Homo sapiens: one gene and its partners. The protein of the gene in region 3 purifies or fractionates together with the protein of the main gene of each other region. This does not show direct contact. Each region holds a gene or a part of one and is shown on either strand. Other genes may lie near its edges.

Evidence for each region.
Region 1: the proteins of FUT1 (region 3) and SLC9A1 purify together in Homo sapiens (affinity purification with mass spectrometry; 2 studies listed by BioGRID and IntAct, with this or other methods). This does not show direct contact.
Region 2: the proteins of FUT1 (region 3) and GOLIM4 purify together in Homo sapiens (affinity purification with mass spectrometry; 2 studies listed by BioGRID and IntAct, with this or other methods). This does not show direct contact.

What each region holds. Positions count from the first base shown.
Region 1 is NC_000001.11:27,145,083-27,148,731, reverse strand, and holds part of SLC9A1 (sodium/hydrogen exchanger 1), read left to right. Parts: intron 1-3,649. UniProt on the Homo sapiens protein: Electroneutral Na(+) /H(+) antiporter that extrudes Na(+) in exchange for external protons driven by the inward sodium ion chemical gradient, protecting cells from acidification that occurs from metabolism.
Region 2 is NC_000003.12:168,029,829-168,033,477, reverse strand, and holds part of GOLIM4 (Golgi integral membrane protein 4), read left to right. Parts: intron 1-625; coding exon 626-958; intron 959-3,441; coding exon 3,442-3,649. UniProt on the Homo sapiens protein: Plays a role in endosome to Golgi protein trafficking; mediates protein transport along the late endosome-bypass pathway from the early endosome to the Golgi.
Region 3 is NC_000019.10:48,750,500-48,754,248, reverse strand, and holds the start of FUT1 (galactoside alpha-(1,2)-fucosyltransferase 1), read left to right. Parts: upstream 1-1,607; 5' UTR 1,608-1,759; intron 1,760-2,965; 5' UTR 2,966-2,967; coding exon 2,968-3,749. UniProt on the Homo sapiens protein: Catalyzes the transfer of L-fucose, from a guanosine diphosphate-beta-L-fucose, to the terminal galactose residue of glycoconjugates through an alpha(1,2) linkage leading to H antigen synthesis that is an intermediate substrate in the synthesis of ABO blood group antigens.

The DNA of each region.
Region 1 (3,649 bases), on a different chromosome or scaffold from region 3:
ATAGTACTTCTCATTAGCACTGAAATTTGTTTCCAAAGCACTTGTGTGTACAATATTTAATTTAGATCTTCTCAGTGGTCCTGTGGGTTAGAATAGCATGTGGTATTGATGTGTTCATCATTTTACATCTAAGGAAATTGAGCCTTCGGTTGTGACCTGCCTGAGGTCACTTAGCATGCCTGGGACTAATCACTCAAGGCCAAACTCTCTCCTGCCAGGCCAACATGCTGGGTTCTTGTTGGATCAAGGGGGATGAGAGATTTAAAGGGGCTTTGAGGAGAGTCAATGACCAGACACATCCACATTGGTAACCTGGATTGTTGTCAGGAGGGACACCTGTTCCTCCTGTAGGCAGGAAGGGCTAAAGGGTCTGGGTGGTCTGGAGCCTTGACAGCTTTGGCTCAGCTCCAAGTTCTTTTCTACAACTTGAACATACCTGTATTTGCATGAAGGAGGATGAGGGCCAGAGTTGCACTGGGGACTGACATTCTCATAGCCCTTATCTGTGGAGCAGCAAATCTTTGAAATGGAGGACTTGTCCTTTCCCCCAGAATGTTGCATGCCCTCTGGGAGAGAAAAGGAGAGGCAGAGAAATGATTACAATGGAAAACATGTAGGATGGGGTGAAAGGTTAAGATACCTGAGATCTAGTCTCAGCTCTCTGTTGCCCAGCTGTGTGACTTTAGGCAAGGCATAACCTCTCTGAGCCCCTGTTTTCTTTTTTCTTTTTTTTTTTGATACAAGAGTTTCGCTCTTTTTGCCCAGGCTGGAGTGCAATAGTGCAATCTCAGCTCACTGCAACCTCTGCCTCTTGGGTTCAAGCAATTCTCCTGCCTCAGCCTCCTGAGTAGTGGGGATTACAGGCATGTGCCACCACACCTGGCTAATTTTGTATTTTTAGTAGGGATGGGGTTTTGCCGTGTTGGTCAGGCTTGTCTTGAACTCCTGACCTTAGCTGATCCTCCCACCTTGGCCTCCCAAAGTGCTGGATTACAGGCGTAAGCCACTGCTCCTGGCCTGAGCCCGTTTTCTAATTGATAATATAGATACTTAATTTTTCATTTTGTTTTGTTTTGTTTTTTTAGAGATGGGGGATGGGGATCTTCCAATTTTGTTGTCCAGGCTGGTTTTGAATCCCTGGCCTCAAATGATCCTCCCGCCTCAGTCTCCTGAGTAGCTGGGATTATAGGGATGAGCCATCACACCTGACTCCCTATTATTTTATTTTTATTTATTTTTTTGAGATGGAGTCTCACTCTGTCGCCCAGGCTGGAGTGCAGTGAGGCGATCTCGGCTCACAGCAACCTCCGCCTCCAGGTTCAAGTGATTCTCCTACTTCAACCTCCCAAGTAGCTGGGACTACAGGCATGCGCCACCACCCCCAGCTAATTTTTGTATTTTTTTCTTTTCTTTTTTTTTTTTTTTTTTTTTTGAGACAGAGTCTCGCTCTTTTGCACAGGCTGGAGTGCAGAGGCATGATCTCAGCTCACTGCAACCTCCGCCTCCCGGGTTCAAGTGATTCTTCTGCCTCAGCCTCCTGAGTAGCTGGGATTACAGGCACCAACCATCATGCCTGGCTAATTTTTTGGTTTTTTTGTTTGTTTGTTTGTTTGTTTGTTTTTAGTAGAGACAGGGTTTCACCATATTGGCCAGGCTGGTCTCGAACTCCTGACCTCAGGTGATCTGCCCGCCTCAGCCTCCCAAAGTCCTGATATTACAGGCATGAGCCACCGCGCCCGGCCTAATTTTTGTATTTTTAGTAGAGATGGGTTTTCGCCATGTTGGCCAGGCTGGTCTTGAACTCCTGACCTCAGGCGATCTGCCCGTCCCGGCCCCCCAAAGTGCTGGGATTACAGACATGAGCCACTGCACCCGTCCGGTAATTGGTGATATATTTGTTAAATACTTGTTAATTAGCTGCCACTTATTAATTTTTTATTTTGTTTATTTTTGAGACAGGATTTCGCTCTGTCTCCCAGGCTGGAGTGCAGTGGCGCAAAGACGGCTCACTGCAGCTTCAACCTCCCTGGCTCCAGGCAATCCCCCCACCTCAGCCTCCTGAGTAGCTGGGACCACAGGTACAGGTCACCACATCCAGCTAAGCTGCCACTTATTCATATCTAGTTTAGAGGTTGTGAAAGGTACTTGCACAGCTAGAAAACATTGGGGTTTAAGCCCAGATTTGTCTGACTTCAGAGCCTGTGTTCTTTTCATCCTCATGCCCTGATTCCAAGGGCCTTTTCAGTTTAGAAATTCAATTTTTCCCATAATCATTTTGAATTGGGGGAGATTTAAAGACTTTAGTATTTTGAGCCTTGGCTGCTTTCTGTGGATCACTTCTTGGGTTTGGGGAAAAAGCTGACCCACTCCAAGTCCCACTGTGAAGCAAATAACCTTTCTCAGAGGTGGCAGCATGCAGAAAAATACAGGAGTGACGGGGAACTAGAGCTGGGGGCCTGAGGCTGTCTCTGGGAATGCCAGCCCATACACAGCCTCCTTTCCTCCTCACCGCCTCTCCCACCTGCCCCCTTTCCTCCTGAGGCAGGGAGAGAAGGCTCGCTCAGCACACCCAGGACCTGGGTTATTCCTGAGTCATCCATCGCCTGTGTGGGCCTCATTTTGCAGCACTCGCTCCCCCTGCAAATGTCTGAGTCAGGCATGTCTCCCCAAGGTTGTCTGCACACACTGCACTGGGCCAAACTGTCTCTTTAGATGCCGATAAACATCAACTGATACTTTAAAGCAGCCCGTGATTATATGTTGGTATTTTAATCTTATGGGCTAATCTAATTTTAACTGAACTAAGTTTTGGGTTGGGCCTGGATCAGTGGGCTGCCCGCCTTCCCTGGGATCATGCTGACTTCATTTTCTTCCCCCTAAAGCTCATCTAATATACAGAGCCGATTTTGGGGTCTATTAGGCCAGACCTGAGCCCTGAGTTTTTATACTACTTGCCAAGAATCCAGAGTTCCCCCCAAATTACCCCAGCAAATTCTTTCCTGAAAAGATATGTCCTTAAGCAGTTCTAACTGAGATTCAGGATGAAAAGCTCTGTTCCTTCCCAGGCCCCCTTCCCTGTCCCTTGGGAAGCACTTACCCCTAAGCCCAGACTGGCCTTGCCACAGTGCTGAGCCTGTTTGAGACCAGGCCACAGAAGGCGGAGGAGTGATATCACAGCTGTGTGTTAGAGCCCACAAGTTCACTAAACCAATAAATAGCTAACACTTGCATAGCATTTGCTGTATGCCAAGTGAAGCTGGAAGAGGCTGTGTCTTTGCATCAGCCAGCCAGGACCAAGAGCAGCTCGCTAAGATCCTGGGTGGAAGAGGCAGGTCAGCTGAAATCAGCTAGCAGGCATTTAGCATATGGCCATCAAGGAACAAAAGAAGAGTAAACCCAGGCCCTGCTCTTTAGGAGCTTCCAGCCTGCCAGGGCTGGGCGGACTCCTGGCAGAGGCAAAGTACAGAGGGAGCAAGCAGTCCCTGAGGACTGGGGTGTTTAGAGAAAGCCTCTCAAAGGAGGTGGAACATTAGTCTGAGTCTTGAAGGATGGAAAGGAATTAGATAAGCAGGCTATACTTAGTACCAATTTCCATAAGAATGTAAGCCTCTTGAGGACAGGGACTTTGTTTGTTCACTTTCTTTTTTTT
Region 2 (3,649 bases), on a different chromosome or scaffold from region 3:
CCGCCACCACGCCCGGCTAATTTTTTGTGTTTTTTTAGTAGAGACGGGGTTTCACTGTGTTAGCCAGGATGGTCTCGATCTCCTGACCTCGTGATCCACCCGCCTCGACCTCCCAAAGTGCTGGGATTACAGGCGTGAGCCACCGCGCCCGGCCAATGGCATTCTTTTTTAAATTAGTAAACCAAACTAGTAAAAACTAAACCCAACTCCTCAATTTTATTTCATCCTTCTCTTTTCAAATAATTACTGAAAACAAAATTTACATTGAAGAAAATTATGTAAACATTTCATCACTTGAAGTTTGAGGTTTTGTTCCTTTTTATTCTAAGGGAAAATAGGAATTAGAGTACTTCTGAGATATTGGTTACTTGGAGGTTTTATTTTCCAGGTTATTTACTGTATTCTTCACAGATGAAGTTTTGCTTATATTATGTCTATTTTATAAGTGAGATTACACAGTAAGAAACTTAAGTGACTCCATTGCAGCCATAAAGCCAGGACTATATATATTTCTAGACACCTTCTTCTGTTGTAGCCCCATGCCCCATAGACATGGAAATCAAGAAATTACATCATTACTTTTGAAATTGGAAGAGTGTCATTCCCAGTGATGTGCTTGGCCTAGGTGTCTCGAAATAATGATGTGTGGCAGAACCATGAAGCAGTTCCTGGAAGAGCAGAAGACACAAAACTCTATGCTCCCACCCATAAGGAGGCAGAATTTCAGGCTCCCCCAGAGCCAATCCAACAAGAAGTGGAACGCAGAGAACCTGAGGAGCATCAGGTGGAAGAGGAGCACAGAAAGGCCCTGGAGGAGGAAGAAATGGAGCAGGTCGGGCAAGCAGAACATCTTGAGGAGGAACACGATCCATCACCAGAGGAGCAGGATCGGGAGTGGAAAGAGCAGCATGAGCAACGAGAAGCAGCCAACCTCCTGGAAGGGCACGCGCGTGCTGAGGTATGAAGTCACCCGCTTCTGGTATGGTGTACTGGGATGGAAAACCTGGCTTTATTTTTACATATTAAGGTAATATATCACAATCTCTAAAATAGAAATGTGAGTGATTCTACTAAACATTATATGCTCATATTTAAGTTTTCTCTTGTAATGTTAATAGCATAGCTATTCGCATACCTCAGAAAGATGATTGGTGATGAGAGAGCACAGCTGTTGTATGTGTGCATTCTTCTTTTTGTCAGTTGTACACAGTCAGAGATTCATTCTCACATCACCTTAATAGAGTAGAACAGGTGAGTACCTGATGGGGCACCTTCCCAGCTTGTACCCAAGTTTTGTCTTGAGCATCTTGAGGCAGAGAAAAATCTCATTTTCTATGATCAGGCGTCCTCCTCTCCCTGTTCATTTATTGTCAGTATGTTGCCTTTTGTATTCACCTTCAAGGTGGTTATTTAATTATCAAAAATCTGATTTTACTACTTGGAGATATTCTACTAGGTGAGCATATCTAAACAGCCTCTGCTCAGGATCCCTTACTGGACACGCCACTTACACGTAAGACTTTTCCCTTTCTTAAAAAAAAATGGCCAGGATTATTATAAATGATGCTTTAAAAGAAAACTCTACCCTTTCTTCTTTTAAACCAACAGTTAGTGCAGCTAGATGCCTTTCTTTTACTGTCTCTAAACTGAGTCTCAATAGTAGGTTACCTGGCCTTTACATGGGTGTGGATCACCTTCTATTTATAACTCTGAAGTTTTATTCGGCCTCAGATTTTCTGAGACTTCAAGCCGCTTGAGGCTTTAGGCTAAGCAGGTGTGAAGACCTCTGTAGTTGCCCTCTTAGGTAGTTGCAAACTTAACCTCAGAAAGCTTCTTCCAGTCTTGTGTCCTTCCCCAATAGGGGAAGTAATTCCCCACCAGCTTTACTTCCCAACCCTCTACCTCTTTCCTTAAGTGAGAATTGTGTGTGCTTTTGTTAGTTGGGGTATGGCAGGGAGGATGGGTAGTAGCTCAATGGGGTACAGACACTTTTTATTGATGCATAATATATGTATATATTTTCAGAGTATGGGCGATATTTTGAAACATTCATATAATGTATAATGATCAAATCTAGATAACCCATCACATCAAACCTAGATAACCCATCACATCAAACATTTATCTCTTTTTTATTTTGGGAGCATTCAAATTCTTCTAGCTGTTTTGAAATATAAGATAGATTATTGTTAATCGTAGTCACCCTACTGAACTACCAAACATTAGGTCTTATTCCTTCTCTCTAACTATATGTTTGTACCATTCATCAGTCTCTCTTCATCCCCCTTCCCAGCTTCTAGTAACCACCAATCCACTCTATCTTATCAATATCGCTTTTTTAAGCTCCTACATGAATGAGAATATGCAATGTATGTCTTTCTGTGCTTGAAGTTTTTCACTTAACATAATGGCCTCCAGTTCCATCCATGTCACTGCGTATGACAAGATTTCATTCTTTTTTATGACTGTGTATATGTACCACATTTTCTTTATCCATTCATCCGTTGATGGATGCTTAGGTTGATTTCATGTTTTAGCCATTGTGAGTAATGCTGCAATAAACCTGAGAGTGCAAGTATCTCTTCAATATAGCAATTTCCTTTCTTTTGGATATGTGCCCAGTAATAGGATAGCTGGATCATATGGTGGTTCTATTTTTAGCTTTTTGAGGAACCTCCATACTGTTTTTCATATTGGCTATACTAATTTACATTCTCACCAACAGCGTACGAGGGTTCCCCTTTCTCCACATCCTCACTAGCGTTTGTTGTTGCCTTTTTGATAAAAGCCATTATAACTGGGGTGAGATAATATCTCAGGGAAGCAGAGTTTTAAGAATTGCTGTATCAGATTTCCCTTTAATCAGAAGGCACCATCTTCTCAGCCATTCTTAGTTTCTTTGAAAAAAAATTGAATATCTGCTTTTCCACTATTACCTGGAATGTGGCTTTTTTTTTTTTTTTTTTTGGCTATGCTTAGCCTGGGATTGGTATATACATTACTAGAGTTAATTAGCATCCCTCGGTCTTTAACTGTTCATGGAAAAAGCCTTAGGCGTAGCATAAGGTCACAGATTGCCCAGTTAATGTGAAGTTACCAAAGTTACCAACTACTTGTTTATATCAGAGCCTTGTGAACATAAATTTTACAGTTTGAAACTGTTATCTTCGGTTGTCCCTTCTGTTCCATTTGAGAAGGGAGCACATTGAAAATCTGCCTTAATAGCAGTAGTTGGAAATATCAGCTGCTAAAAAAGCCAAGGGTGATTCAGAGAAAGTTGGGAAATAGGAGTTTTTGGACTTCATGTATAATCACAGTTCACCTGACAAATAGTCGTTAATAAACCAGCTCTGCCTCCTGAGTTTGTCAGGAGAAACAAATGAAGAGAAAACCCAGAGGAGCTAACCCCTCTTGCTCTGCACCAACTCTTTTTCACCCTAGGTGTACCCTTCAGCCAAGCCAATGATCAAATTCCAATCACCCTATGAGGAACAGTTGGAACAGCAGAGACTGGCAGTGCAGCAGGTGGAGGAGGCCCAGCAGCTGCGGGAACACCAGGAAGCTTTGCACCAGCAGAGGCTGCAGGGGCACTTACTACGGCAGCAGGAACAGCAGCAGCAGCAGGTGGCAAGAGAGATGGCCCTGCAGA
Region 3 (3,749 bases):
TCTTTGAAGTTCGTAGTAGATAGCGGTAGAAGAAATAGTGAAAGCCTTTTTTTTTTTTTTTTTGAGGCGGAGTCTCGCTCTGTCCCCCAGGCTGGAGTGCAGTGGCGTGATCTCGGCTCACTGCAATCTCCGCCTCCTGGGTTCACACCATTCTCCTGCCTCACCCTCCCAAATAGCTAGGACTACAGGCGCCCTCCACCACGCGCCCGGATAATTTTTTGTATTTTTAGTAGAGACAGGGTTTCACCGTGTTAGCCAGGATGGCCTCCACCTCCTGACCTTGTGATCCGCCCGCCTCAGCCTCCCAAAGTGCTGGGATTACAGGCGTGAGCCACCGCGCCCGCCCGAAATAGTGAAAGTCTTAAAGTCTTTGATCTTTCTTATAAGTGCAGAGAAGAAAACGCTGACATATGCTGCCTTCTCTTTCTGCTTCGGCTGCCTAAAAGGGAAGGGCCCCCTGTCCCATGATCACGTGACTTGCTTGACCTTATCAGTCATTTGGACGACTCACCCTCCTTATCCTGCCCCCCCTTGTCTTGTATACAATAAATATCAGCGCGCCCAGCCATTCGGGGCCACTACCGGTCTCTGCGTCTTGATGGTAGTGGTCCCCCGGGCCCAGCTGTTTTCTCTTTATCTCTTTGTCTTGTGTCTTTATTTCTTACAATCTCTCCTCTCCTCACAGGGGAAGAACACCCACCCGCAAAGCCCCGTAGGGCTGGACCCTACGTTAGCCTGCCCTGCTCGGGGTTGGCGATGCTGGAGGTGGGCCTTGGACCAGAGAAAATGCTTTAATTAGGTGACAAGCGGGCAGAGGCCTTTGTCTCTGGCGCCGGCAGCCACGGCCCCCGCTGACGGCGTGGGAAACAGACCCTGTTCCACTCCGGTCTCCAGCCTTGGAATGGTTGCCTTCGTGCAGTGCAGGTCTGGAAAGTAGCAGTTTGGCACGGGACCCTAGAATTCCCCAAAAGGAGTGACTAGGGGCTGGGATTCTGGAATTTGAGTGTGGACGGTGAGGCGGGGGGTGTGGGAGATCGGAGACCCTGGTGGGCGCGGGAGCACCTGCAGGCTGGAGGCCCTCGCGCGCTCCGGCGGCAGCCTGGCAAACAGGTTCTCCATCCCCCAGGAGGACGCGGCAGAGGGCGGACGATCGCTCCACTCGCCGGGACCAGGTGCGGGGGCCCTGCCCAGCCGCTGGGGCGTGGCCAGGCTCGAAGCACCCAGGTGTCGGGGGCCGACTCTAAGCCCTGGCACCGGAAGAGAGAGGGCGGCGGATTGGACCTCCCGGCTCCAGCATTGCAACTGGGCGCTCCGTCTCCTGGTCCACGCAATGATGCTGCGGCTGCTCAGAAGCCAGGTAGCCTGCCCTGGGTGAAGCCTTCGCGCAGGTCAATGACGGGGCGGAGGGGCAGGGCGCGGTCCCCTGCATCCCCGATCTGGGGAGCGGTGGGCCCAGGGGCCATCGCCTTAGCCCCTGGCGCTGGGGCTCGGCGCCAAGTGACGGGCGGGGCTCCACCTTCCAGCCATCCGCCCGGCCCGGGAGGGCGGACGCTGCGAGACTCCCGGCCGCGCCCTCTCCTTCCTCTCCTCCCCAAGCCCTCGCTGCCAGTCCGGACAGGCTGCGCGGAGGGGAGGGCTGCCGGGCCGGATAGCCGGACGCCTGGCGTTCCAGGGGCGGCCGGATGTGGCCTGCCTTTGCGGAGGGTGCGCTCCGGCCACGAAAAGCGGACTGTGGATCTGCCACCTGCAAGCAGCTCGGGTAAGTGGGGACTGCCCCACTCAGTTGTTCCTGGGACCCAGGAACAACTCCTTCAGAACCAGGAGGTGCACCCCCAACCTCTTCTCCAGGTCTTCCTAAGGCCCTAGGAATCTCCGCCACCTCCCCAGCCATTACTCCTCCAGGAACCAAGATGCTCCTTCCGCTCCTGACCCTCCAGCCTCTCTTGTTTTACTTGAACTATCGTTTCCCATCACCACCTCTGTGGTGGATTTTGCGCCTCACAGACAGGTACTCCTGAGAAACAGGCTGGTGGAAGAGTCCAGTATCAGCGGAACTTACAGGAGGGGAGACTCGAGATTCCTTCAGGAAAGGTGTAGGAACCTGGACCACTTTCTTTTTTTTTTTTTTTTTTTTTTTTTAAGACAGGGTCCCTCTCTGTCGCGCAAGCTGGAGTGCAGTCAGCGGTGCTATCGCGGCTCATTGTGAGCTCCGGGGATCCTCCCGCCTTAGCATCCGGTGTAGCTGAGACCACAGACATGTGCCACCATGCCAAGCTAATTTTATTTATTTTTTTTTGGAGACGGAGTTTCACTCTTGTTGCCCAGGCTGGAGTGTAATGGCATGATCTCAGCTCACCGCAACTCCCGCCCCCCGGGTTCAGGCGATTCTCCTGCCTCAGCCTCCCGAGTGGCTGGGATTACAGGCATGCGCCACCATGCCCGGCTAATTTTGTATTTTAAGTAGAGACAGGGTTTCTCCACGTTGGTCAGGCTGGTCTCGAACTCCCAACCTCAGGTGATCCACCCACCTTGGCCTCCCAAAGTGCTGGGGTTACAGGTGTGAGCCACCGCGCCTGGCCCATGCCAAGCTAATTTTAAAATTTTTTTGTAAGAGTGCTCTGTTGCCCAGGCTGATCTTGAACTCCTGGGCTCAAGGGATCCTCCCATCTCAGCCTCCCAATATGCTGGGATTACAGGTGTGAGCCACAGTGCCCAGCCAAACCATGGCTATCTTGAAAACCACTTGTCTTCCAGTCCCCATGCCCCGAAATTCCAAGGCTCTCATCCCTGAAACCTAGGACTCAGGCTCTCCCTACCTCAGCCCCAGGAGTCTAAACCTTTAACTTCCTCTTTCCCTGGGACTAAGGAGTGCTGCACCCCAGGCGCCTCCCTTACCCCACATCCCTCCTCAGCCTCCCCTCCTCAGCCTCAGAGCATTTGCTAATTCGCCTTTCCTCCCCTGCAGCCATGTGGCTCCGGAGCCATCGTCAGCTCTGCCTGGCCTTCCTGCTAGTCTGTGTCCTCTCTGTAATCTTCTTCCTCCATATCCATCAAGACAGCTTTCCACATGGCCTAGGCCTGTCGATCCTGTGTCCAGACCGCCGCCTGGTGACACCCCCAGTGGCCATCTTCTGCCTGCCGGGTACTGCGATGGGCCCCAACGCCTCCTCTTCCTGTCCCCAGCACCCTGCTTCCCTCTCCGGCACCTGGACTGTCTACCCCAATGGCCGGTTTGGTAATCAGATGGGACAGTATGCCACGCTGCTGGCTCTGGCCCAGCTCAACGGCCGCCGGGCCTTTATCCTGCCTGCCATGCATGCCGCCCTGGCCCCGGTATTCCGCATCACCCTGCCCGTGCTGGCCCCAGAAGTGGACAGCCGCACGCCGTGGCGGGAGCTGCAGCTTCACGACTGGATGTCGGAGGAGTACGCGGACTTGAGAGATCCTTTCCTGAAGCTCTCTGGCTTCCCCTGCTCTTGGACTTTCTTCCACCATCTCCGGGAACAGATCCGCAGAGAGTTCACCCTGCACGACCACCTTCGGGAAGAGGCGCAGAGTGTGCTGGGTCAGCTCCGCCTGGGCCGCACAGGGGACCGCCCGCGCACCTTTGTCGGCGTCCACGTGCGCCGTGGGGACTATCTGCAGGTTATGCCTCAGCGCTGGAAGGGTGTGGTGGGCGACAGCGCCTACCTCCGGCAGGCCATGGACTGGTTCCGGGCACGGCACGAAGCCCCCGTTTTCGTGGTCAC